Linked DNA regions of Homo sapiens. The protein of the gene in region 6 purifies or fractionates together with the protein of the main gene of each other region. This does not show direct contact. Each region holds a gene or a part of one and is shown on either strand. Other genes may lie near its edges.

Evidence for each region.
Region 1: the proteins of LRIG1 (region 6) and RAB4A purify together in Homo sapiens (affinity purification with mass spectrometry; 2 studies listed by BioGRID and IntAct, with this or other methods). This does not show direct contact.
Region 2: the proteins of LRIG1 (region 6) and LIMCH1 purify together in Homo sapiens (co-immunoprecipitation; one study listed by IntAct). This does not show direct contact.
Region 3: the proteins of LRIG1 (region 6) and ODR4 purify together in Homo sapiens (affinity purification with mass spectrometry; one large-scale study listed by BioGRID and IntAct). This does not show direct contact.
Region 4: the proteins of LRIG1 (region 6) and FGL1 purify together in Homo sapiens (co-immunoprecipitation; one large-scale study listed by IntAct). This does not show direct contact.
Region 5: the proteins of LRIG1 (region 6) and LMO7 purify together in Homo sapiens (co-immunoprecipitation; one study listed by IntAct). This does not show direct contact.
Region 7: the proteins of LRIG1 (region 6) and MTFR1L purify together in Homo sapiens (affinity purification with mass spectrometry; 2 studies listed by BioGRID and IntAct, with this or other methods). This does not show direct contact.

Annotation. Positions count from the first base shown.
Region 1 is NC_000001.11:229,298,611-229,302,110, forward strand, and holds part of RAB4A (ras-related protein Rab-4A), read left to right. Parts: intron 1-366; coding exon 367-462; intron 463-3,500. UniProt on the Homo sapiens protein: The small GTPases Rab are key regulators of intracellular membrane trafficking, from the formation of transport vesicles to their fusion with membranes.
Region 2 is NC_000004.12:41,649,657-41,653,156, forward strand, and holds part of LIMCH1 (LIM and calponin homology domains-containing protein 1), read left to right. Parts: intron 1-736; coding exon 737-952; intron 953-3,500.
Region 3 is NC_000001.11:186,396,338-186,399,837, reverse strand, and holds part of ODR4 (protein odr-4 homolog), read right to left. Parts: intron 1,540-3,500; coding exon of another isoform or gene 1,526-1,539; coding exon 1,397-1,525; intron 885-1,396; coding exon 794-884; intron 1-793. UniProt on the Homo sapiens protein: May play a role in the trafficking of a subset of G-protein coupled receptors.
Region 4 is NC_000008.11:17,864,525-17,868,024, forward strand, and holds part of FGL1 (fibrinogen-like protein 1 precursor), read right to left. Parts: intron 228-3,500; coding exon 68-227; 3' UTR 1-67. UniProt on the Homo sapiens protein: Immune suppressive molecule that inhibits antigen-specific T-cell activation by acting as a major ligand of LAG3. Responsible for LAG3 T-cell inhibitory function. Binds LAG3 independently from MHC class II (MHC-II).
Region 5 is NC_000013.11:75,800,330-75,803,829, reverse strand, and holds part of LMO7 (LIM domain only protein 7), read right to left. Parts: intron 3,147-3,500; coding exon 2,948-3,146; intron 1-2,947.
Region 6 is NC_000003.12:66,494,523-66,498,022, reverse strand, and holds part of LRIG1 (leucine-rich repeats and immunoglobulin-like domains protein 1 isoform 1 precursor), read left to right. Parts: intron 1-3,500. UniProt on the Homo sapiens protein: Acts as a feedback negative regulator of signaling by receptor tyrosine kinases, through a mechanism that involves enhancement of receptor ubiquitination and accelerated intracellular degradation.
Region 7 is NC_000001.11:25,818,520-25,822,753, reverse strand, and holds the start of MTFR1L (mitochondrial fission regulator 1-like), read right to left. Parts: upstream 2,801-4,234; 5' UTR 2,725-2,800; exon of another isoform or gene 1-2,724. UniProt on the Homo sapiens protein: Mitochondrial protein required for adaptation of miochondrial dynamics to metabolic changes. Regulates mitochondrial morphology at steady state and mediates AMPK-dependent stress-induced mitochondrial fragmentation via the control of OPA1 levels.

The DNA.
Region 1 (3,500 bases), on a different chromosome or scaffold from region 6:
ACTCAGATTGTTTGAAGAAGGACATTGCAACTTTCCCTGAAATCAATGGCAGGGCCATTTTGGCAAGCCAGCTCCTTTCTGATGGGCTGTCATTTGGCTGGGGAAGCCTGGTTGCTTGCTCAGCCCCTTCACCAGGTTAAGTGCTAGCACAAGATAGCAGTTACTTTTCAGAAAAGGCTAAAATTCTTTTAACATTTAAAAAACACATAATGACATATATTGATTTTATATTTACAGAAATATATGGTTTTAGGTCATAAATTATATTTCGTCTGCTTTTCTAAGAGAATGCTACACAGGCTTTTGTAAGTGAAAATTATGATCATCTTCTAAACATGACTTTATTTTGTTTGATGTCCATTTTAGAGCTGATGTTTTTGGAAACAAGTGCGCTCACAGGGGAGAATGTAGAAGAGGCTTTTGTACAGTGTGCAAGAAAAATACTTAACAAAATCGAATCAGGTAAAAGCCTTTCCATTAAGCAACTTTTCTTCTGCATATTTTACACTGTAGCTCAGTAGATCACCTTTTAATTAATAGTTTCAGGGTGATTTAGTAAAGAATGTTCTCTCTCTACCTGCCAACCTAAAATCATCACATATGGGTTCAAAGGTCCTGTTCTTATCAGGATGAAAGCCCCATCCTTATCAGGATGGTTTCCATGGTGATGAAAGTGGATGGGCACACCAGCTCAGCTGTGGAAAGGTAGTCAAGGTTTCAGGGAGTGTTTGCATTTAGAACCATAGTCTTTCTTTGGTCCTTCACTAAACGGAGGAAGAATAGGCCTTTGTCCACTCTGTCAACAGCACGCTAATTCTGTTGGGCCAGTGGTCATGTGTAAGGGAGTTATAGGTACATGGTATAGTGTTGATTGTTGCAGATCGGGCATCATGGAACTATGGAGTCCAGAGTAATTTTATTTCTGAAGCTTACTGAGCATGCCTCAATTATAAAATGCCTCATTTTTGTATTTGCTTATTAAAATAATTTAAAATAATCCTAATGTAGGCAGCTGACGAAATACTGTGTAGTTGTCATTTACTAAAGTAACTATATATGGGCATCACCTTTTAATTGATTCATTCAAACATCTGAGTGCCTATTTGTCAGATGCTGGGATACAAAAATGAATAAATCACACCCCTTGCCCCCCAAGAAACTGTCTTTCATGGGAGACAGTCAGAGGATAATTATAATATCACAAGGCTGATGTAGTAGCTGAGAGATGCACAGGCTCAGGGTAACGTGAAGAAGGGGACCTGCCCCAGCCAGAGGATAGAGGAGGTGTCAGGGAGGGCTTTCAGGGGAGGTCTTAGATGAGCTCAGTCTTTCAGAATATAAGGAAGAGTGAGCCAGCAAAGGGAGTGAGGAAGAGGGAATAGCAGGAGAAAAGGTTGAAGAAAGGCAGGAGCCAGCCAGTCCTCATCAAGGATCTAGAACTTTATCTTGTAGATTACCAATTGTCAACCCTGGATGAGCACTAGAGACACTGAGATGCATTAAAAGTTCTAATCCCAGGCTCTGCCTCTGGAGACGCTGAACTAATTGGGCTGAAGTATGGTCGAGGCACCAGTGTTTTTAAATGTTTACTCATGCTGTTCTAATGTTCATCCAAGATTGAGAACCACTGCTGTAGGTGGTGGGTTGTCAGCAGGTGGGTGATGTGATTGGGTTGTGACTTGAGATAAGTCATGTATGTAGGAGGTTATGTTGAAAACAAACTGAAGGGAGGACAGGCCTGGAGGCCAGGATACCAATTATAAGGCATTTTTGAGTAATCCTAGTAAGAGATGACTGATTAATGCTTTAACAAGGATATGGAAGCAGAGATGGAGAGAGAGATGGATCTAAGATATATTTAGGCAGTAGCATCTTATGACTCATATGCCCAATAGTGGGACAGGACAACTGACTCTTAGGTGGGACAAGGTGAGGAGGAAGGGCCAGCAGGGGAGGAGGAACCAAGGATGACTCGCAGCTGTCACACTGGTGTCTCTAGACAGAGATGGGGTGGAGCCAGAGGAGAAGCAGGGAATGTGAGGGAGTAAAGATGGCTCTGTTGCAAATGTGCGGCCTTTGCGGTAACGCTGAGACATGAACATGGAGTTATCTAGTAAGCTTGGGGAAGAGTTCCTGGCTGGCAGTATAAGTTTGGGAACCATCAATATATAGGAACAGCTAAAACTGTGGAAGCAATGTGATCGTCCGGAGAACAGTGTTTAAGGAGAGCAGTGATCAACAGAACCCTGGAGTTGGAGGATGAGCAGAGGAAGAGGAATCTACAAAAAAGATGAAAAAGGAAATGGTCGGAAATGTGTGAAGAAAATCAAGGGAATGTGGGTGTCACTTAAGCCCTAATTATAAGCAAATCAAAGGAGTGTTCATTATGTAATGTAATAGTAACAGAGGGAAGCCTCATAAGCTAAGACTGAGCTGAAAAACACACATTGGGATGGGGAATAGAAAGTCAGTGATCATTTTGATCAAGAACAATTTCAGCAGAATTATGAAGGTAGAAGATGGCTGGCCGTCCGTTAGGAAGAAGTAGGAGGTGAGCAAGCAGAGTGTCCACTCCTCTCCTGAGGAAGCACAGGCTGGCACTGTAGGGTGCAAAGGGTTAATTTAAAGCTGGGGTTGTGGGTGATGGGAGAAATTCCAGCATGTTTAAATGCTGAGGGGGAAGGAGAGAAGAATGGGCAAGGAGAGGGCAGGGAAGAAGGAGGGTGCTAGGTGAAGTAGGAGGGAGGAGAGTCGGGCCCAGGTAGAAGGGCTGGGTTTCAACAGAAGTGGACATGTCATCTTTTTGTATTTTTTTTTATCAGAAAGAAAAAAAAATTACTAAGCTTGGTACAAAAACCAAGACACTGTTACATAAATCCTTACAGTTGGCTTACTGTTGAGTATTATTAAGCTCAGCATGAGGTTGTATTTACATGACCTTGCTATTTTAATATTGTATCCCTGAATGCATCAGATAGAACAACTCATATGCAGTCTTCCAAGATGTGTTTTTTTCTGAGATCATCAAAATCATAAGTACCTCTAGGTGAAAAAAATATAAGAGTATAAATTAGGATTCTTCAGCAGTACTTTTTATTTTTTTAATGGGTAATACATTCAGAAACCATTGTTTTCTTCCCTTTTTTTATATAAAATGTATCATATGATAGACTACCACGCCTTGCTTTTTTACTTACTATTGTATAACCTACAAATCATTACAAATCAGCTTATAGTTTCCGTATATACATATAATACATAAGGTACATATATATAACATAATGTCATACATAATGTGTGTGTGTAATGTGTAATATGGGTTGAGTATCCCTAATCCAAAATGTTCCAAAATCTGAAACTTTTTAATTGCCAACATTGCCACTGAAAGGAAATGCTCATTGGAGCACTTCAAATTTCAGATTTTCAGATTAGGGATGCTGAACTGGTAAGTATAATGGAAATATTTCAAAATCTGAAAAAATCCAAAATACTTCTGGTTT
Region 2 (3,500 bases), on a different chromosome or scaffold from region 6:
CTCAAAACCACTCTACTTTCTGCCTCAAATTTCAAGACCGAGATTTCCAGATGCCTTTCAGTAAGCCAGGCTAACCGCCCTCTCTGGTTTCCCTTTCTTGCTCCAACTGCCTCCCCTCGATGTGAGTGCAAAACAAAAATATTTTAATGTGCATGGTCTTTTTTTCTTTAAAAAATGGAGGTTATAAAAGTAACTAGAAATAGAGATTCACTGTAACAGAGCATAGTCTCAGATCCCTTGCCCTCTGCCTTAGCTTCAAAAAAAGTATCTGTTTCCCCTGCTACCACCATGGGATAAGCTGTAAAATATTCCTGATCTGTGGTAAGTTCCGCCTCATTTATATGCTATCCAGAAAAACAGTCAAGGTTGTGGAATAGCAATCAGAACTGAAGTGAAACAGTATTGGAACCCCAATATGTGGCATGTATTTGTACTTAAGATTCTTCGGTTTTCTGTACTTTAAAATAAAAGCAGACCATAAATGAGGTGAACATGAAATGGAATCTATAGTGAAGTGGCCCAAGCAGGCCAACTACCTTTTAAGGAGGCCCTCAAAGATAGCATTTATAGAAGCCCTAACTCATAGATCCCATCAGAACATTTAAGAGACCTCTTCCTTCATTGGACTCTGGTTATTAAATGATGATCTTTTGAGGTAATTCTGAACGTGTCGTTTTGTTACAGTCTTTGATTGGGGTATATATAGCATGTTTTTTGTTCATTCTGGCTTTTATAGGTAGACGGGAAAGTCAGTGTGAATGGAGAGACGGTTCATAGAGAGGAGGAGAAGGAAAGAGAGTGTCCCACGGTGGCACCTGCCCACTCCTTAACCAAATCCCAGATGTTTGAAGGTGTGGCCAGAGTGCACGGGTCTCCACTGGAGCTGAAACAAGACAACGGTAGCATCGAGATCAACATAAAGAAGCCAAACTCTGTTCCCCAAGAGCTCGCAGTAAGAACCAAACATTTCCCCGCCTCCCTTTGGGATAATTCCATGGTGAAAGAATCTGTTTTTAAAAATAAGTAGGTCATGATAATGACCATTTCTTTCTATGTTGGCGTATTAGTTTGCTAGGGCTGCTGTAAGTACCACAAACTCAGTGGCTTAAACAACAGAAACTGTCTCACAGTCCTGGTAGCTAGAAGTCCAAAACCAAGGTGTTGGCAGGGTTGGCTCCCTCCATTGGTCATGAGAGAGCATCTGTTCCAGGTCTCTCTCCTAGCCTCTGGTGGCTGCTGGCAATCTTGATGTTCCTGGGCTTATGGATGTGTCATCCCCCTCTCTGCCTTTGTCTTCACTGGTGTTCTCCCTGTGGATGTGTCTGTATTCAGATTTCCCTATTTTATTTTATTTTATTTTATTTTTCGAGATGGAAATTCGCTCTTTTTGCCTAGGCTGGAGTGTAATGGTGCGATCTTGGCTCACTGCAACCTCTGCCTCCAGGCTTCAAGCAATTCTCCTGCCTCATCCTCCCAAGTAACTGGGACTACAGGCATGCACAAGTGCACCCAGCTAATTTTGTATTTTTAGTAGAGACAGGTTTCACCATGTTGGCCAGGCTGGTCTTGAGCTCCTGACCTCAAGTGATCCACCCACCTCAGCCTCCCAAAAGTGCTGGGATTACAGGCATGAGCTACCACACCCAGCCTAATTTCCCCTTTTTAGAAGAACACCAGTCATACTGAGTAGGTCCACCCTTCTCCCTTGTGACCTCATCTTAACTAATCACATCTGCAGCAGCCCTATTTCCAAAGGTCACTTTCTGAGTAGTAAGGGTTAGGACTTCAATAATATGAATTTTGGGAGACACAATTCAACCTGTATCATTGGTATAATGGAAGGTATTACAATTTATGAGCCAGAAATTACTTTTTCTTGTCTCACTATTGGTGTCCAGTGTTATAGAAGAATAAGTAAATCTTTAAAATACCTTTTCCCCCCCTGTTTATTTAGGACCTCATTAGACTTGTTAATGCCATTTGAAAATAACTGGTGCTATCAGAATCTAGCTTTCCATCCCCGGCGATGTATATATAAAAGGGCCTTTTTCTTATTAGTTAAAGAAACAAAAATTCATTTAAAAGCTGAAAGTAATGTAAAGCATCAGAGTACTATTGAATGGCAAAGCTAAAAAATGTATGCTAATTCAGGTACTGCAGAAAAGTGAACTCAAAATAACATGATATTTGTTTCTTTGGAGTAGAAGACATCATTGGGAAAATTGCACTTTCTTCCATCTCTCACCAGAAAGACTCATGCTGGTTTCACTAATCTAACCGAAACTGTCACTACACAGATGCAGCCCTGCTTTCGGGGTACGGGCTGGACTCTGTTCAACCTCATTTGTACTCACCAGAGGCTGAGTTTCTGCTGTTCTAATTTATAGCATTTGGGTTTATATTATAGTTACAAGAAGGGAAAAACTATCAAGATATTTTCCCCCAGGACCTAGAAAGGTTTGGTGTGAAAGGAAACTTCTTCCGGCACCAAGGGAGCTGAGCGTTGTGTGACCCAGCTAGCTAAAACCCACCTAGAAGGCTGGATATCATTATTTTTTTCCTTTATGATTAGTCTTTTGAAGACTAAAATTATTTTTTTTTTCAGAGGAGTTGAGAAGATATAATTCTTCCACGCAGTACCCAAGTGCTCTGTGAAAGAGATTCAAATGGGAGTAGACCAAAATCATTTTCTCACCATGGTAACACGTTTCCTAGTCTCTAGGAGCAGAGTTTTGTGATCCAGGCCACTGCGGAGTCTCTCCTGAACTTGGACTTCCTGGACTTCCATTTTACTTGTCATTTGCATACGTCTTACCTCTGCTAGAGATTTCTTGCAGATGATCACGAGACAGAATATTGAGTTCTGCTAGCAGTGTGAGAACTTAACTGATAGAGTAAACATTAACTTATGCTGTTAAAATTAAACTAGAAGACCCCAAATTAATTAGACATAGGGGTGGCATTGCTTTTCAGGGACAATTAATAATTCTGTTCTTATTTCTCTTTTGCCATTTTTCATGATGATCGTTTTCTAAATTCCCTTCATTAAAAAGATTTCACATTGATTACATATCCCCCAAAGTAACTTGTTTTAAGAGAAGCAAAATTACACGATCTGAAAGAAACTATGCTATTTCAAAAGTTTATACATGATCACATGGAGAAGGATGGCCTTCAGGACTTTCTTCCTAGAAACCAGCCTGATCCTGGTTGCCTAAGGATGCAGGTCTAAACTCAGAAAAGCCTGGGAGTCTTTTCCTTTTGTGTATTTCTTCCTTGGAGAAATTGCCTAGTTCAGAGTAATTTCTAGGTCAGTGAACCCTAATGTTTCTGAACAGGTAGTAGTATTTATGGACCCTGTCTATAGTACTTTAGGCTTTTGAATCAACTATGGCAGGGGGTATTGCATTACTTTCTGTGTGGGAAAATCTCTGTATATATCTGTCAGACTATAAGCTAAGTTGTTAGCTGTACTACATAGGACTGTGGCTCATTACTCA
Region 3 (3,500 bases), on a different chromosome or scaffold from region 6:
AAGATACTGTAACTCAGCCTTTTTTAAACGTAATGAAGTCTGTTAGAGTAATAGCTGAGAAGCATATAAACTAGTGTAGTTTATATAAATAGTACCTACTAAAGGAGCTATTATATAGTATTTAACACTAATAATATTTTGATTATGGCTAAATTATTTAAAATACTCATAGATATCAACAAAAAATACTAACTTTAAAATGTTAACAAAGTTTACTCATTCTGGCAGGAGAAGTTCACTTGGAATTAATTTTTTTAAAAATCCTCCCTGAAATTCTTAATTGTTGACAAATTTGCTAAATTTGATAGTGTTCTAAAACGTTTTTCTAGAGCCAAGCATGGTGGCTCACACCTGTAATCCCAGCACTTCGGGAAGCCAAAGACAGTGGATCACTTGAGTTCAGGAGTTTGAAACTAGCCTGGGCAACATGGCAAAACCCTGTCTCTAAAAAAACAATACCAAAAATTAGCAAGGCATCATGGCATGTGCCTGCAGGCCCACCTACTAGGGAGGCTGAGGTAGGAGGACTGCTTGAGCCCAAGAGGCTGAGGCTGCAGGTGAGCCATGACTGTGCCACTGCACCCCAGCCTGGGCAACACAGTGAGACTCTGTCTAAAAAAAAAAAAAAAAATCTGAGTAGCAACTGAAAAATTTTCATCCAATAATAAAAGATGATATACTGCTTGAAAATATAGATAGGTAGCTATAAAAGATGACGTATCTGCTATATCTTGATATCTTATTACTATATCAGTTGAAGATACGCAAAAAAGTACTTATTTTATACTCATAACTTTTTTTTCTGGAATTTCATTCAAAAGCAGATCCTCAAATAGCATTTCACAACGATCAGCAACTGTGTTCAATATATCCCTCTTTACTGCCTACAGGGAAAAACACACAAAAAACACAGTAAGAAATAAAATACTTTAGATTTACAATATTTAACTAACAAAAAAAATAATTTGCTTTCCAGTACAATCATGCCCACTAAATAACTGATACATCATTCAATGTTTTATTTCCACTTATTTAGCACACTTATTAACAAATTTATAGTTTAATGATAAATTTATCTAAATAGTTAAAAACAGATAAATGAATAAAATTTCACATCTAAAAAAATAATTGCAGTGTTCCAAATTAGATACTAATATGTATAACAGTGGAACACTTACTAAACTTGTATAGCCATCATTTTTAAAAAGGCACAAAATAGATACTCTACATATGAAAATCTTCACACCAATTATATGGTACATTTGGACTGCACAATAGGCCATTATCAGTTAAAATCGAATTAATAATTACAAAATATAAGATTAAAAAATGGTAAAATTTTAGGTTTTTGTTAATAGTTAACATGGTTCCATATGCTCGTTATTCCTTTTTGTACCTGCACAGCATCTTTAACTTTGGGTTTACTGCTGTGGATATAAGCTCTGCATTTCACAGCACCCTTAAGGTTTACAGAACCGCTACATATCTGGACTGTGGCTGTGGATCTGTGGTCTGAATTCAGGAGCTGAAAGACAAAATCTGTTTAAGTTCTAATAACCAACAATGATTAACTACAGGAAATATTTAAACATTATATTAGCGATTTTATGAAGAGAGAACAAAGTTTTGACTGAGCCAAGCATTTGAAATTATTCTCTGCAAATTATTTAAAGGCCTTCATATTTGTTTTTATAAGTTATATATTATTTTCCAGTCATTTTGAAGATATAATGAAATTAAACACAACTACATCTAAATTTTTCTAACATAACCATCTAAAATGGTTCAATATTCACTCGATATGCTCCTAAAAATATATTATTTGCAAATTATTCACATCAGTACTGTGATGATTAAAAGATATACAAAGAAGATATGATGTACTAGATATAAGTTGTGCAATGCAAAATAAGTTCACAATAACAAATACAAAGTGGGATGTGATAACTATGGTAAAACTACAAGCAATGCACAGACACATATATTTACACACTTTCAACCAAAAACTTTCATAGACTAGTCCCATCCTCTTTAGTCTAAGGAATGCCAGTGCTCTTGTTCGGTTTTCAGGTGTTTCACATATATTTTCAACCCCATCATCTTAATAAGTGCCAAAAACAAGGACAGTATCAAAATAGTTAAAGTACTACAGGTTGAGCATCCCTAATCTAAAAATCCTGAATGCTCCAAAATCCAAAACTTATTGAGCACCAATGTGATGTTCAAAGGAAAAGGTAATTGGAGCATATAAGATTTTAGATTTTTGGCTTAGAGATGCTCAACTGGTATGTATTCTGCAAATATTACAAAATCTAAAAAAAATCCCAAACCCAAAACACTTCTGGTCCTAAGCATTTCAAATAAGGCACACTCAACCTGTAATAGAGGCCTATAATAACAGTGGAAACAAAAAATAATGATTTACAAAAAATAACCAAAAAATGGAAATGGTAAGGAAGTAATTTATGTTCTAAGAACACTTGGAGTATAAGTCATTCAACAACCAAATCAATTCTGAAGAACAAAAGTCAAATCATACAACTTGTGAAAAGTGCTTTGTGCCTATGTGCTTATGCAATCAGGAATAAATGCGGAAAAATAATGAAGAGGAGAATACTGACATGCATAGCTATTGAAAGAGCATTATTGATGTCTAGTGTAATTCAAGCAATGTCTAAGGCAATGTAAATCTTCTAGGTGTTGTTAAACAATTTAAACTTTAAGATGGTCAAGGACTTGTTGACAAAAAATTTGCCACAGACCACACAGCTCCAAAGGTCCTGGGTCCATTCAAAAATGGCTATCATCAAACCAAGCAGCAGTGTGACGATGCTGATACAATGTCTGGAATAAGCTTCCATATGACACATGTAGAGTTCATTGATACATCAATAAGGTGGGGTTGGAGGAGGAGTAACAGGCTTCCCCTATCTACTCCATAACTTTTTATTGTAGACAAAACTACTCTAAAAAGAATGTCCTATTTTACATATTTAACATATAATTTATATATTTTTAACATATAACACATTTATATATTAGTATATGTAAATATATGTGTATGTGTGTATATACATATATCTATCTATCTATCTATCTATCTATCTATCTATCTATAATTATGGCATTGTTATCCAAAACAGACTAGACTATTAAAGACTATACACACACATATTAAAGAAAAGAGGTATTTTTTTGGTTGGTTGGTTAGTTTTATTTTGTTTTGTTTGAGGCAGGGTCTTGTTCTGTCATCCAGCCTAGAGTACAGTGATGCTATCAGAGCTCACTGCAGCCTCAAGCTCCTAGGCTCAATCGATCCTCCCACCTTCGCCTCCCAAGTAGCTGGGACTACAGGCACACACCATCACCCCCAGCTAATTTTTGTATTTTTTTGTAGAGACAGGGTTTCACTTGTTGCTCAGACTCATCTTGAACTCCTAGGCTCAAGCGATCACCCTGCCTAGGCCTCCCAAAGTGCTGGGATTACAGGCATGAGCTAC
Region 4 (3,500 bases), on a different chromosome or scaffold from region 6:
GAATGAGTATTTTTCAAATCACTTTAAACAAAGCTGAATTGCAGAAACGAAAGCCCAACAGCAGCAATTAAATTACATTTGGAATAAAATCATTTGGCCTAATTTTCATAACCACAGATTTCAGAGAATACCACCACCCATGCCAGGTGTACCAGACAATCCCATTGTCTGTTTTAGCCGTGTAGGGGCCGCTGTAGTATACACCATTCAGGTTTGCAGAGTGACACCTAGTGGAAGGGAGAAAAAAAAAGAAAACAACAATCAGACTGGAAAAATATTGTTCAGAATCCCTTTTATTTTGCTACAAATGCTCAAAATTTTTGAACTATGAATTCTGCCATTTTTCAGACAAGTAAATATTTACTAGTTTCCAAAAGCTGAGAAATTTCTACAACAGATGGCTATTGTATTTTATTTTTTATTTTTTAATTTTTTTTTAATAATAGAGACAGTGTCTCACTGTGTTGCCCTGGCTGGTCTCCAACTCCTGAGCTCAAGCAATCCTCCTGCCTCAGCCTTCCAAACTGCTGGGATAACAGGTGTGAGCCACTGCGCCTGGCCTCAGAGATGGGTATTTTAAAATGGTGAGTTTTACTGCCATTACAAATCTGAAAATACAACCCAGGCCACTCACAGTGCATTGAAAAATAAGCATTTCAATTTTTGATTTTCTTTAAACAAAAAATTAAAACAAGCAAACAAAAACGCATCCTTGTAACCTCCAGCCTTACAACCTCCTGACTCAGAACAGTGTTAATTTCATACTTAACAAGAGCTAAGGTGAGTGTCAGCAAAGCAAGTCGTGGGCAAGGTGCTCTACTACTGGCTTTCCTGGATAATTTGCACTCACACGTTCATTCCTCTGCTGCTAAGACTTAGCTTTCATAATTCAAACTCCGTATGTCCCCTTCTTTAAATTGCTAGCCTATCAGTTATTTCAATCTCAAGGGTAAGCAAACAAACCTAAATCACCATTTAAAGTTTTGCCACCCATCAACCAATAATCATTTTTTCCTAGTTGCTGAGTTAATTTTTTACATATATTGCACCAATCTAGATAAGCTGGTTAGGTTATCGACAATATAAAAATGTTTCTTTCCTCCTTTGGAGTCTGTAAATTTTGTCCTTGATATGTATAATTTACATGTAACAGTATGCAATAAGTTTATGTGTGTTGTTATGAAATTAATTGCCATATACTTCTTTATTGATAAAATTAATGAAAAGATGTCAGAATTAGGATAGAAGGAGAACATTCACAAGAGGTAGTTCTGAACATCTATGGAAAAACCCAAATTATTGAATCAAAAAAGCATATAATCTACCCGTAAAGGCTGAGTGGCTGGCTTGAATCACTTATCAGCTTAATGATTCACTCCTACTGAGCGTTCTCGAAGTCCTCCTAACTTAAATGGACGTAATTAATTGAAAATATGTATGTCAAGTCTGCAAATGTCAAAGCCTACTGTGTTTTTAAAACAGCATGGAAAGTAATGTTAAAAAAAGAAAATACTGTAAATTGAGTCTCCAGAATATATATTTTGGCATATATTTGTCTATCTAGAGACATCTGCTAACTATATTTTTATATTTGGTCTATCATTTGAATCCCATTAGGAAACTGACTCTGTGATGAACATAAGAAACCTTCACTATTCTGAGACCAGTTTTCTAGCATCGTTTAGTTTTTAGAACAGCCTGGATTTGAAACTAGGTTAGGGGATGATTGGGTCTTCCTTGGTGAAGAAGTGGCTGTGAACACTCACGTGAAATGCTACACTAACAAAGAAAAGACATCAACTCGCAGTGATTGGTTTGCTATGTGGAAAAAAACATTTTATAGGTGGGTAATATTTATGAAGTGCCAACATTTCATGTAAATTAGAAGAACTATGGGACAGAAAAAAAGCAACAGTAAGAAGGAAGAAAAGATGATAGTCGAACTCACTGATAGTAGGCATGGTAGAAGTAGCACCAAGTTTCTAAAACAATCTACTTTCTCTCCCTTAATGCCTACTGATTTTCCAATTGCACAGCCTTATCAACCCCTTTGATTCCAAGGATAATGTGGGCTCTGTGGCAGGCTCCACCTAATGAATGGCCTTTCTTTGTGCTCCCTGAACCCATTTCTTTAAAGTCAGGTAAATCGTTCCTTTGCCCACATTAATATACATGGTAGTTTTCATTCAGATGCCTTAGAAGCCAGTCAGCTGGATAAAGTACATGGTTTTGATCTCAGGATACTATTAGTAATTATTTCTGTATATGGAATTGTTTTCAAAATCAAACATTGGTGATGCTTGCAGATGACTTCATGAATTACACGTTAAGTTTTATGTCATGCTGACTTAGAAGAACAAGGGGGAAAGAAAGGAGTAGGAACAGGTGAAGAAGACGGTTTTTAAAATAACAGGAAAACCACTAAGGAAAACACCATCATCACCTTCAATTTGCAAAGCAGGAGAGTGAAATTTGTTTCTCTCCTTCACACTGCTGGAAATACTCCAGTTCCTTTATAAATGATCAAATCTTAAATGGACTCAAATGTTTTTTTAAAAAAGCAAAATATAGAAAAGATGACTATTTTTACAACAGCAGTAGTACTCCCTTATCTGCAGGGGATACGTTCTAAGACCCCTAGTGGATGCCTGAAACTACAGATAATACCAAATTCTATATATTGATACTATGCTTTTTCAGTCTGATAACCGAAACAGCTACGAAGTGAGTAACGAGCAGATAAAGAAAATAAAATTTACCAAACTGAAAGACATGATATAGATTCAAAAGAACCACTGAGTACCCACTGCAGTAAACCAAAAGAAGACCACGACAGTGTATGTCACTGTAAAATTTCAGAACGCTAGGGGGAAAAATCTTTTGGGTGTAGGAAGGAAAAAAACCATCTATAGTAGTTCTCTGTTTTTTCCTATAATATACATACCTATGACAAAGTTAATTTATAAATTAGACACAGTAAGAGATTAACAACAACTAATAATAAAAGATTATGATTATATAACAATATGTCAGCATTACAGCTCTTGTGCTTTGGGACCATTATTAAATCAAATAAGCATGATTCGAACACGAGCACTATGAAACTCCAACACTGGATCTGATAACTCAGACTTCTACTAAGTGTCTTGGGGCAGGGAGGGCTTTCAGCGTGGATACGCTAGACAGAGGGGTGACCCACCTCCTGGGCAGAAAGAATCCAATGGTGCGAATCTCTGCTCAGAATGACATGCAATTTAAAACTTATGAATTCGGCAGGGTGCGGTGGCTCACGCCCAACACTTTGGGAGGCCGGGGTAGGTGGATCACATGAGGCCAGGAGTTCGAGACCTGCCTGGGCAACATGGCAAAACCCCATCTCTACCAAAAATGCAAAAATTAGCCCATGTACCCCAGAAATATATAAAATATTTTGTATCAGTAAAAAAAGAAGCAACTATATACAATCAAAAACGGAATGAATTTGCTGATAAAGTAACATG
Region 5 (3,500 bases), on a different chromosome or scaffold from region 6:
AAGAAAAAAAAAAACAAGCTTGTAAAGGGTCTGGATAGATTCTATAAACCAGAATCACACATTAGATATGAGGCTGGACTGGATGACTTCTAAAGTTCCAAAGGAATCTGAAGTCTTATGCCCAAATGAGAGCACAGAACTCACAGTTTCTTCAGAGTGGCCATGGAAATTATATTGGGAACGCTGTATTATGATTCAAAATCATTTAAACACAAATTCAAAAGAACACCCTTTGATACTCCTCAAGGTCAGATAGATACAAATAGTAATCTGCTTTCTTAAAAGAAGAAGAATGAATCTACTCTTTTAAAGACAAAGGAAGAAAAGGGGGGAGAACAACACTACAGATCCAAGCCAAGCTGTCCCTCTTTCACACCCTTCTCTTCCTGCCTCCTGTGCACTTGTAAAGGTTTGGAAATGTTACTTGCTTCTCACCAGGGTTCTCTCCAGGCCTGGCTGTGCACAGTGCCTGACAGCTACAAGCTCTCAGCAGGTAGAGCACCTGCAGGGTTAACCTGAGTTAAATGCAGTCTCTTCCCCTCCCTCCTGCCTGGCAGGAAGCTACAGTAAATAACACTGAGAACAGTCTACAGGAAGTCGCTTAACATACAGCTATGAGACAGGGACAGAGTAAAAGGAGAGTAGAGTCTTGGCAAAAGAGGGAAAGTAAACGCAGCTGTGACCATGAGGAGTAGTAGTCAATAAACTGGTGCTTTCTTTTTACCACCTTCTAAAAAATCAGACATTTATTTCTCATTTCCAATAAGTATATCAATTACTCCTGCCGAAATCCATACATGTGGAATTTTAAAGTCATAAAGAGACTATTTTACTTTCTAACTTTTAAGAAAAAGTATTTTTTAGCCCAGTACGGTGTCCTGCAGAGAATTTTTTCCCCCAAAGTATCATTCTTGATATGAGTTTTCACGTAAAACTAGAGAATGTGACATTGCAATTCTGTTATCCTAAAAATATTACCCTACATTATAGTGCTCATCAATTTAGGACTACAATCTAGAGAGTAGCAGTAGAATTTTAACACACTGATCACAAAAGAGCTTTATCGGCCTGGTGCCTCCATCCCAGGCTTTTTTTCCCCGCTTAGTTGTAATTTCCAAGACTTCACTTACGCACTCTTTAAACAAGGTCTGCAGCCCCATTTCCAAGATCAGAAAGGGATGTGACAGTGGCCTTCTGCTTTTGGTTACATGGACAGGTGCCCATTCCAACAAGGATCTGAGAAGACGACTTAGATTCCACACCGCTGGGTGGGCCACTGCATCTGAACTGACTGAAGCCTGCATATTCCCACATGCCCTCTATCCCTTCCCCTTTTATTCCTTGACTAGATATAAATTCTGTCATTACATGGAGTAGGTTCTTCAGTAAGGGAAAAGAAATACAGCGGGTTCAGAATTTCAGCCTCTGCTTTTACAGCTTTAACCACTCAGATGAATCACATACTCAGATTCATTTCCTTAAACGTATTGGAATCGTCATCTGGGCTATGAAAATGTCACACCTTGACAGCAAACAGCCAATACGTGTGGCAGTAATTATAAAGGTTAATGCTGAAATAGCGTTTCACATTTTTTATTTTTAAAAACTACTACTCTAAAAGATAAAGCCTTCAGGTTTTTTGTTACCATGCTTAATAAATTGTTGATTGGTTTTTTGGAAAACAAATTCATAGCATGTTGTATTTATATAAGTTTCACATCAGAAGTAAAACAAAGAATAAATTCTAGTTAATGATGTTCATACTGAAGTATTTAGGACAAGTGTGATATATTCTGAAATGCCTCAAAAAATAAGATGACTAAATTATAATAGAGAAAGGAGGGAGGGAGAAAGAGAAAGAGAGAGAGAGGAGAGAGAGATGAGTATAAGATAAAGCATGCATAGTAAAACATCATGGTGGAATTAGGCAGCGAATACATGTGTGTTCGCTGTACAATTATTTTAAGTTTGCTGATTTTTGACATTTTTGTCATAGATATGCTAGGAAAAATATCTAGAAATAGAAAAGTAATATTCCAAATACACAAGCAATGTAAAATCCCTAACAATTAAGCACAAATCACAGCCAGAACTCAATGTTTTCACATTGATGTCGATAGAAGCACAGAAATATTTCAAAAAAAAAACTTCACTTGTGGTTTCAATCTAGTCAAATCTGAATAGCTGGAGATGTACACTCAGAAATTGCTGACGCTATACCCAGTAGCCACAGGAATAAGATGTGCATTGAAATAACTGAACTGACCATAAGCTTGGGATTTTGAAAGAAGGTTCCTTCCCGCAACAGAATGTCTCTAACATGTTCCTTTCACACTTGCTCTGTCCTGGGTTAGCTCTGACTCTGAAAGGACCAAAAGAGGATTTCTACCTGCATGTTAGGTGGTGGTATATTACTCAATCTACAAAGTTTAACATAATATTCTATCATGATAGATAGCAATCATTTCTTCTCATCTATAGAAATAATTGTAAAAATATTTTTCTTTTTTTGCTTAAGAGAGTTTTTTTAATCTTTTGAAAAAAGCCAAGGATGAAAGTTACTCAGAAACTAGAAGATTTTTTTTTTTTTTTGCAGAATCTTATATTCCTTTCTATGTTTAGATATATCAGTTTATAGAACTCTTGAACACAAATTAAGCCTGAATCTGGAGAGAGAAGAGCCAGGATAGATTATCACTGATAAAACAGGCCACAATTAACTGTCACCTCTCAGTCCTTTCCAGAAATGAAATTTTTCAAAAATGAAACTATCACCATCATGAAGGAGAAAAAAATAACAAAACCCCCAATTATACTCCAGTCTCTATGAAAATCCACTTCTAAGTGAAATTTTTGCCTAGTTTTTGCTCCATTTTTCTATTCTCTCCTGTTCCCAGTTCTCCCTTAATATGTGAACAAATAAACTGACAGCCAAAACACAACACACCTTCACGCCCCCCTCTCAACGTGATATCAGAGGAGCAGCTTGTCAATGACCTCGAGCCCAAAGAGTCCAAGCTTTCAAAGGAATCTTCTCTCTTATGGTGCCTTGGAGGAGCAAGAAATTCTCCACGTTCAGGACACCAGATGTCACCGTAGCCACTGTCCCTGCCACTTCTTTTCAGGAAGCTGGAGTCTTCGAGTGCCTAAAGAAAACGTTTTTTAAAGAATAGTAAGTTAAATAAACTTCCAAAAAATATAATCAATCGGTTATTACTTGCTTGTTTGCCTAATTTAAGTTGGGTTTTATTTGACATGTAAGGCATGAGGTTTCTCTGTCGGACACAGCAAAAAGCTGATGAAAAACAGAAAATAAATTTGTAATTGTTTGCCCACAACTGATACAATAAGGGGGTATTCAATATTCAAAGTAATAATAAGGAGATATTCAATATTATTTAATAAACTAGTACATATGTTCTATTTAAAAATAAGGAAAATTACTAGTTTAATGAAAGTTCATAGAGTAACATTGAAATGCTAAACTCAGTTATTACAGT
Region 6 (3,500 bases):
CTTCTGAATTTAAATCATTAGTCTCCGTGAGTCTTATTCTGGAATTTCCATAAGAGTATTTATATGGTTTGTATTCCTGGCTAAGATTCAGCAAGACTTTAGGGGAGAAAGTGTCTGTATATGATATAATGAAATATCTTGTAGTTTCACCAAGTTTACACGCTCTAAGCCCACGGTGTCTAGAAAATGCTTTGAGCTAGTTTATAAACCCATGAACTGGATTTACTGCAGCTAGTTCAAACAACTTCAGGCTGTGGGTTTGAGATAGCAGAGGACCTGTGGCTTTATGGGACCTTTTTTTTTTTTTTTTTTTTTTTTGTAAACAGTGCGTCTGATGTGGAAGTTGCTTCTAGGCCTGATATAAGAAAAATAAAACTTTTAAATAGTGAATGTAAATGCAGTGTGAATAGAAGAAACAGAATGGATAATGATAATCGGTTCATTTTTGGGGCCTGAGGATAACTTTTCAGCACAATAACTTACAGTTGTAGTAGTCAAGCCATAATTTAAGTCTCCCAGCCCATTACGTAGGTGAGATTGGCATGGTCCAACTAGCACATTCATAAATAGCACCAAGCCACTGCCAAGCCTTATTCCAACTTCCCAGAACCTGAGAAGAAGTTGAACTTCTTAGAACTCAGATATTTGCTTTCTTTGAAATTATTTTTGAGAGCATGGCTTCAGAAGCTATTTAAGAAGTATTAAATACAGTTTACCTTAGACTCTTACCTGTGCCGTAAATTTCAGCAGTGTTTAGTCACAAAATGTTGCTAGTTTAAATGTCCTGAGAGCTGAATGGTAGCCCATTGGGATTGGGATTAGGATTAGGAAGGCAGGCCTAGAGGAAGAACAAACCCTGATTTTTGTTCTCAGTGTGGAGTGAAGATGACAGAGCATTCTAAAGCAAGGATATTCACAAAAGTGTATACCAAGTGTGGTTATCCTAAGCCACATTAAGATGAGTTTATTGATTTTGATCTCTTTGTACTATGTGTTTGCAATACCAGATCAGTTAGCTTAAATCTAACCTTGCCAGTTTTGGCAAAGAAGTGGTACTTATGATTACCTTAGAAAATAAACACCAACTGTGGTTGCCATTGTGGTTGGGAAGCAAAGAGGGCCTTTGTCTTTCAAATTTTACAGCTGTGCTGGAAGGCCCAGGTGTGCAGGGTGTTGTGAATTAAGGGTTTGGAAAATACTTTCCATCCTGTTTATGCAAATTAAGTTTAAAGTGCAGATCACCAAATTGTTCTGGAACCTAAACTGAGATTCATGTTTTTTTTTTAAAGTAGATTGTTGTATGGATGGTCCTGAAATATTTCCTTCTCCATATCACTTAAACTCAACAGACTTTGAAACAAAAGTCTTCCGATTTGTGGGACAGGGAAGAACCTGGGTTGTTTGGAATAGGGAGCATTTTAAACACAGGTTAATTGCCAAGAATACAGTCTGAAAGGTGCAAGTGCTCTTAGAGTTTCAGGGAACTTTAGCTTGAGCTCAGAGTCCTTTTCTTTTGCAACAAGTGTCTTCCCTCTTGTTGGGGGATAACTTGTCTGTTGATAGCTCTCTGACAACTTTTTTTGAGTAAGGTGAGATTTCTGGCAAATAATATTGGTTGTCGTGAGAAAAAGGCACACTGTTTAAGTCTTGCTGATATGAAATTGTGGCCGTAATATCTATTCTTTGAGTACTGCTAAAGTAGGAAGTGTCCAGAGATTCCCAGCGCCCCATGTAAATTAACTGTGTATTGGCACACAATGTCCCTCTTGCCTTTAGGACATGTCAGAACTGTTCCTGCCCCGCTTTTCAAGGGACTGTTTTAAAAAGTAGTGTATTGTCTCTTTGCATAATTATATTTGGTTACTAGATTTTACAGACTTTGGACTTTTGAACATATTATCAGCAGTAATTCTCGGAACCATCTTCAGAAAGATGAAGAAAAATTAAGTGTAGTGTGATGAGAGCTGGTTCCTAGTGGATGTCCTCATGTCCCATCTCCCCAGCTCTGCACCGTTAGCTGAAAGCTTTCCTCCCTCCAGTGTTAATTACTTTGCCTGGGTTCTCCCTGCAGCTTCCCTGAGTCCATTGGGACGGCCTCTGGCTGACCTTTCTCTCCCTCAGACACCATGATCACAATGAAAGGGCCTCTCCCGCTTCTGCAGGGGTGTCTCCTTGGTGCAAAGTCTTCAGCCTCCTCTCTTTCAGGGTGGACAGGAATGCAGGAGAGAGCACTGGGGTTTTGTGTGACTTAACAATGCACCTGGCCCAGTGCTGTGCACCTGCTAAAGCCCTGAAGGTCTGTTAGATAGGAAGGCTGGGTGGAGGTTGTTTAAAATAGCCTATAGTTATTTAAAAAGTGGCATGCACAGGAGAGGGAAATCTAGAAGAGGGATTCATTGAATTGAAAGTTGTTATATGCAGTAAAGGATGTTGGTTGTATCAGAGTCTTTCTTTCTTCTTTTCCTCGTTTGTTTAAAACATAAAAGGGATTCCTCTGACCTACCCCATAGGTAGAAGGACTTTAAGTTTCACGAGCAAGCCTAACTTTCAATTCCTTTTGAATGAGCTATGTGACATTTACTCACTGGGTACGTTCCCCCTCCTCAGTGACTGCAATTTGAAACCCTGGGGGTCTTTTAAAAGCGAACAGAACTCTGGGCCGTGTTAATATTCAGAGCTGTTTACAATGGATGCAGTTTCAAAGGCTGATGGCATTGTCTTGAGACAGGAGGGAGGACGGGTGGAGGAAAAATTCCCAGGCAGGGAAGGGCAAATATCTAAAAATCTCCAGTGTTTACCAGCCTGTGGGAAATTTAGGGACCGTTACTGTTATTTTTTATGACTTAAGCATGACACTGAGCCACTAGGGTTCATTCTATCTACCTCATGGCTTCAGTTCTTGTATGTCAGTTATGTGGTTATCTTGTGCTTTTGTTTCAAGTTAAAGTGTGGAAATTGGTAAGAAACTCAGATCTTATCTCCTCTGGAAAGAAATAGAGCACTTTGAAGACCAGTGGTTAACATTTTTATAATAGTTTACCTCTGGGACCTGCATTTATGTTTTGCTCAAAGAATTTGATATAGCTGCACAGTTTAGAAGAGCAGTCCCGACTGACCAATTAATTGTCCAATTATGACTAGGACTGAGAAGTTTTTTGCTGAAATACTTGATACATGACCATTCTTATTAAGCAAAATGAATGGATCAATAAAGATTGCAGAAAAAATTTGCAGTTTATTGATGGTCTAATTTCTAGTTGAAAGTCGGCAATTTGTGTCTCTTTTTTGTAGGGGGTGGTGGGTATGCTTGTGAACTTTTCTTATACAAAGGCTTTTTGCTTTATATGTTCTTATATTCTTATATTTTGTATAATTTGTTATCAATGGTTTTTACCTAAGTACTTTATGCATAGTCTTTTGAAACACAAGTTATAACTTCAATCTGTTCATAGAAGTCCTTCAGTTTTTTAAGCTGTTTCTCCATTTCACTGGGTTTTATA
Region 7 (4,234 bases), on a different chromosome or scaffold from region 6:
GAGAGCGAGACCATCCTGGCTAACACAGTGAAGCCCTGTCTCTACTAAAAATACAAAAAATTAGCCAGGTGTGGTGGCGGGCACCTGTAGTACCAGCTACTTGGGAGGCTGAGGCAGGAGAATGGCGTGAACCCAGGAGGCAGAGCTTGCAGTGAGCCGAGATCACGCCACTGCACTCCAACCTGGGTGACAGAGCGAGACTCCGTCTCAAAAAAAAAAAAAAAAAAAAAAGATTTGCCTAGTGAGCTTGGCCAACCCAAGAGCCTTCCTGGGCTCTCAGGTTTCTTGAGGCAAAACTTCTAAAGATGCAAATAGAATCCTTGGTAGCTACAAAGCTCATCTAGCCAAATTATAAGTACTATCCAAGCCCAGGATTCATTCTTGAAGATGAGATGTAAAAGCACTGCTGGGCCCTTGCAAAGGGAGAGATCAGAGAAAATAGGAGAACGAACACCAGCTCATGCCAATCTCAGTCTCATGAGCTACAGAGAAAAAGAGCCAAAAAAGTTTATCCTGGCTCAGCCACCTTCTGGCTTTGTAGCTACAGGCAAGTTATTTAACTTTTCTGAATGTTGGTTTTTCCATCTGGAAAAAGGAGACAGGAAAAGCTGCCACTGGAGGCTACCTTAAGGGTCAATGAGTGAAATGGGGTTGAGTGCTTAATGAACTGTTAAAACATGACACAGATGGGTGAGGTGACATCTGACTGCTCTTCACAGCAGTCCTTGCATGGTGAGCAGATGCAATCAGTGTGCTCGTTCATTCACTTGTTCATCAAACACCAACAGTACCCACTTGTGCCAGGCCTTGTGCTGGGCACCGTAGGGGCTATGGAAGGAGTAAGACACAGTCATGCTCTCAAGGAACTCGCTGTCCAGCAGAGTGATAGGACATGAATACATACTTCTAGCAAAGGCTGAGTAGCATTAGGCAGGTGGCCAGATGAGGTCAGAGCTCTGGCCCTAGTGCCCTGTAGTAAGTTGCGAGGGAGTAGGAAATGAAGACAAAACAGCAAGAGCACAGGTCCAGCACAAGAAGGTGAAGGACATGGAAAGAGGAGCAGAGCATGATAAAGCTACAAAAGTAGGGGGCAAGTCATGAGGTCCGGGTCACTGGGGAGCCCTGGACAGGCTCTGAATGGGAGATAGACTAGACTGACAAAGCAGCTCTTTCTGGAGACCTCCTGTGGAGGGTCCCCTCTTCTACCCTTGGGAGACGAGGTGTCATTCACTTCACGATACACATGGGGAAAGGAAGTTGGACAGGGGAAGGCACTTGTCTAAGGTCACTCAGTGGTCATGCCAGTGCAAAGCACCCAAAGCCTGGTCCAGGTCCTGCCACCTCCTGCGTGGGCTCCATCTTCTCGGCTCAGTTCAAGCCTTTATTATCAGAGTCCCTCTGTGTGCCAGGCTCTGTGCTGAATGTCCGTGTCGGCCACAAATTGCACTAACGGTGCTTACTGCCACTTCCTCTCCGACCTTACCTCCAAAGACCCAGCCGGGCCTAACCCTCACACACAGCCAGAGGAATCCTTCCCAAACACAGTTAATCACATCGCTCATCCGTTTAAAACTGGCTTACTAGAGCCAACACAGGATAAAATCCACAATCAGTCCCAAACCCATCTTTCTCTGCCGTCTCTAGACCACATTCACTGAGCACCAAGGCCTGCACGCTTCGCAGCCAGCCCTCCTGCTCTCCCCCTTGCCCTCCAGCCACACTGGCCCTCAACCCCCAACACTGGGCCCACCTCTGAGCCCTGCATCAAACACCAGCACCCCCTTCGCCGAGCTCATTCTTCATCATTCCTCAGAGCTCAGCTTAAGCATCACCTTCCTTCCCTGCGACAGGGTCAGGTCCTTTCCTGTGCGCTCCGCAGCACCCTGCCTGTCCCTCGGAGTCCTCGCGAGAGGAACTAGATAACTGTGATCCCCGCGCACAGCACGGTGTCTGCCTAGGACACAGTGAGCGCTTCAACGCGCTGAACTAAACGAATGAAGGGGAACACCAACTCAGCTGTCACCCCCGCCCCCAAGTGTCACTGGCTAGAAGATCTTCCCCCGGTTCGCCGGCAGCACCGGTGGGTCTTGTCACCTCTGCGCCCCGCAGCCCTCCGGAGGCTGCAGTTGCTGTCTGCTGACAGGCGTCCCCTCAGGAGAACGGGAGCTCCTCCAGCGCAGGGCCCTGCTCAGCACCCCTGGTCCCGGGGGCCCCCACGGAGGCCGCCGCGCTCAGTGAAACTTTGCCGCGCGCAGCAGTGGCCGGAGACCCGCGCGGACCCTCTCCCCGCGGGGACCCGCCAGGGCGAGTCGCCCCTCCCCCGCGGCAGACGACCCGACCTGGGCCAAGGTCGGCCAAGTGCTCGCCGCCTGCCCAGCGGCCCTTGGACCCACAGGACCCGGACCCGAGTGCGCGGAAGCCTCCGAGCCGCGGCCAGGTCTCAGAATGCGCGGCGGGGCAGCCCGGCCCGTCAAGCAGCGAAGCCGAAACTAGAAGCCTGAGGTCTGGCTTGGTCACTGTTTGCTGGGGAACTCCGACGAGCAACTACCCTTCGGGGACTCAGTTTCCCCCGGGCCAAGTGAGACGGACAGCTGCGGCTCCCGCGAGAACTCGCGCGGGAACAGGAGCTGCGGGCTCCGCACAGCGCCCGGCACGTAGACCCAGTCTACTAACGGGCTGGAAGGTCGCGCTCCCGCCTCCGCGCCTCCCTAGAACCTTTCTCACCTCAAGCTCGGGCTCCCGGACTCTCTCACCTCACGGCCCCTCCTTCCACCTTGGGCCGCCCAGCCTCAACCGCCCTCACTTCCGCTGACCCGCCCCCCGGAAGCGATCCTCCGCAGCTGCGCACCGAGGCGCACCTCCGCGCACCCTCAGGAGGCGGGTCCAGCTCGGTGGCGAGGGGAGCGCGGCCCCCGAGTGGGCGAGGCGCTGGCGGCTGTAGGCTCCGATACCGCGGAGCACACTCCCCTCCATCGAGACCGTGCCCCCGCGGGGTCTGTGTCCCCGGGAGGAGTTGGCTGCGTTTGGAGATCCCTCGGCCTGGTATTCGTCGCGTCTCCCTGCTTGTTGCTCTCCACGTTTAGCCCCATCCGACTTCTGGAAGCCCAGGGGTGTGTCGCTCGACCCCTAAAATATGCTCCTACCCCTAGGGCAAACTTCAGAATCCTCACCCTGGCCCCCTTCCCAGTTCTTGGTTCCCAGGCAGGTCCCTTTGCAAAGCCTCTCTCCAGCAAGAATGCGCAGAATGGGCCTCTTTCTCCTCTTGACTCCTGCCCTCCAGCACTTTGCAGCTTTCTTCTATTTTAGCCTCTCTCTCTCTCTCTCACACACACACACACACACACACACACACACACACACACACACGGTATATTCAATGAGTTTGCTTATTAGATGGGTACTTGATGTACAAGACTCCAGAGGCTCTGTGGGAAGAGCCACATTCCTTCCAGGCTCACTAACCCACTCCCTCTTTGTGCTCCAGCCCTCACTGTCTTGGTCTGTGGCATGCAGTTCCTGGGTCACATTTCCTTCTCTGCCTTCAGCACAGCCTCGGGCTGTGCCTGGCTCCCAGGCTGGAGTTCCTTGGTTCCAAAGCCTGCAGTCCCCTCTGCCAGAGACAGAGCTGGTTTCATGGGTGAACAGCCCATGCAGTCACAACGGGCCGCATGCTCAGAATCCTGTACTTGGTTTAGTACTTTGCTGTTGCCGTCTTGAAATGATTTTCTAATAGGGGTTCTTGTGTTTTCATTTTGCACGGGGCTGTGCAAATTATGTGACTGGTCCTGGCTAGAGACCTCAGAGGTCGTCCACCCTGATCTCCACCATATCTCAAACGCTGAAGATTGACTTCCAGGTCTGGCCCTCTTCCCAGGATGGCACATTGTGTTTTAATCATTACCTTTCCCTCCTGTGCGATGGCGGATCATGCAAGTCCACGCTGGCTGTCTGTCCTGGGTGTAGATGCTGATTTGGTGTCCCACTCAGATCCCCTTGCAGGAAGAACGGAGCTCCCTACCTGGGAATTTCCTTCACCTCCCAAGCCAATGACTGATAAAAGGTCCAAAAGGCCAGTTCAGCTCTGCAGTGTGGTTTATGCCCCACAGCTCTTCCACTGTGGGTCAGGCCAAGGCTGGGCTGAGACTGTTCCTGCTCAGCATTTTTCCTTTCCCTCTTCTGCTTCCTTCCTTCTTTTACTGGTTTTTCTGGAAGTACACTCCCCCCCAGCCCCACC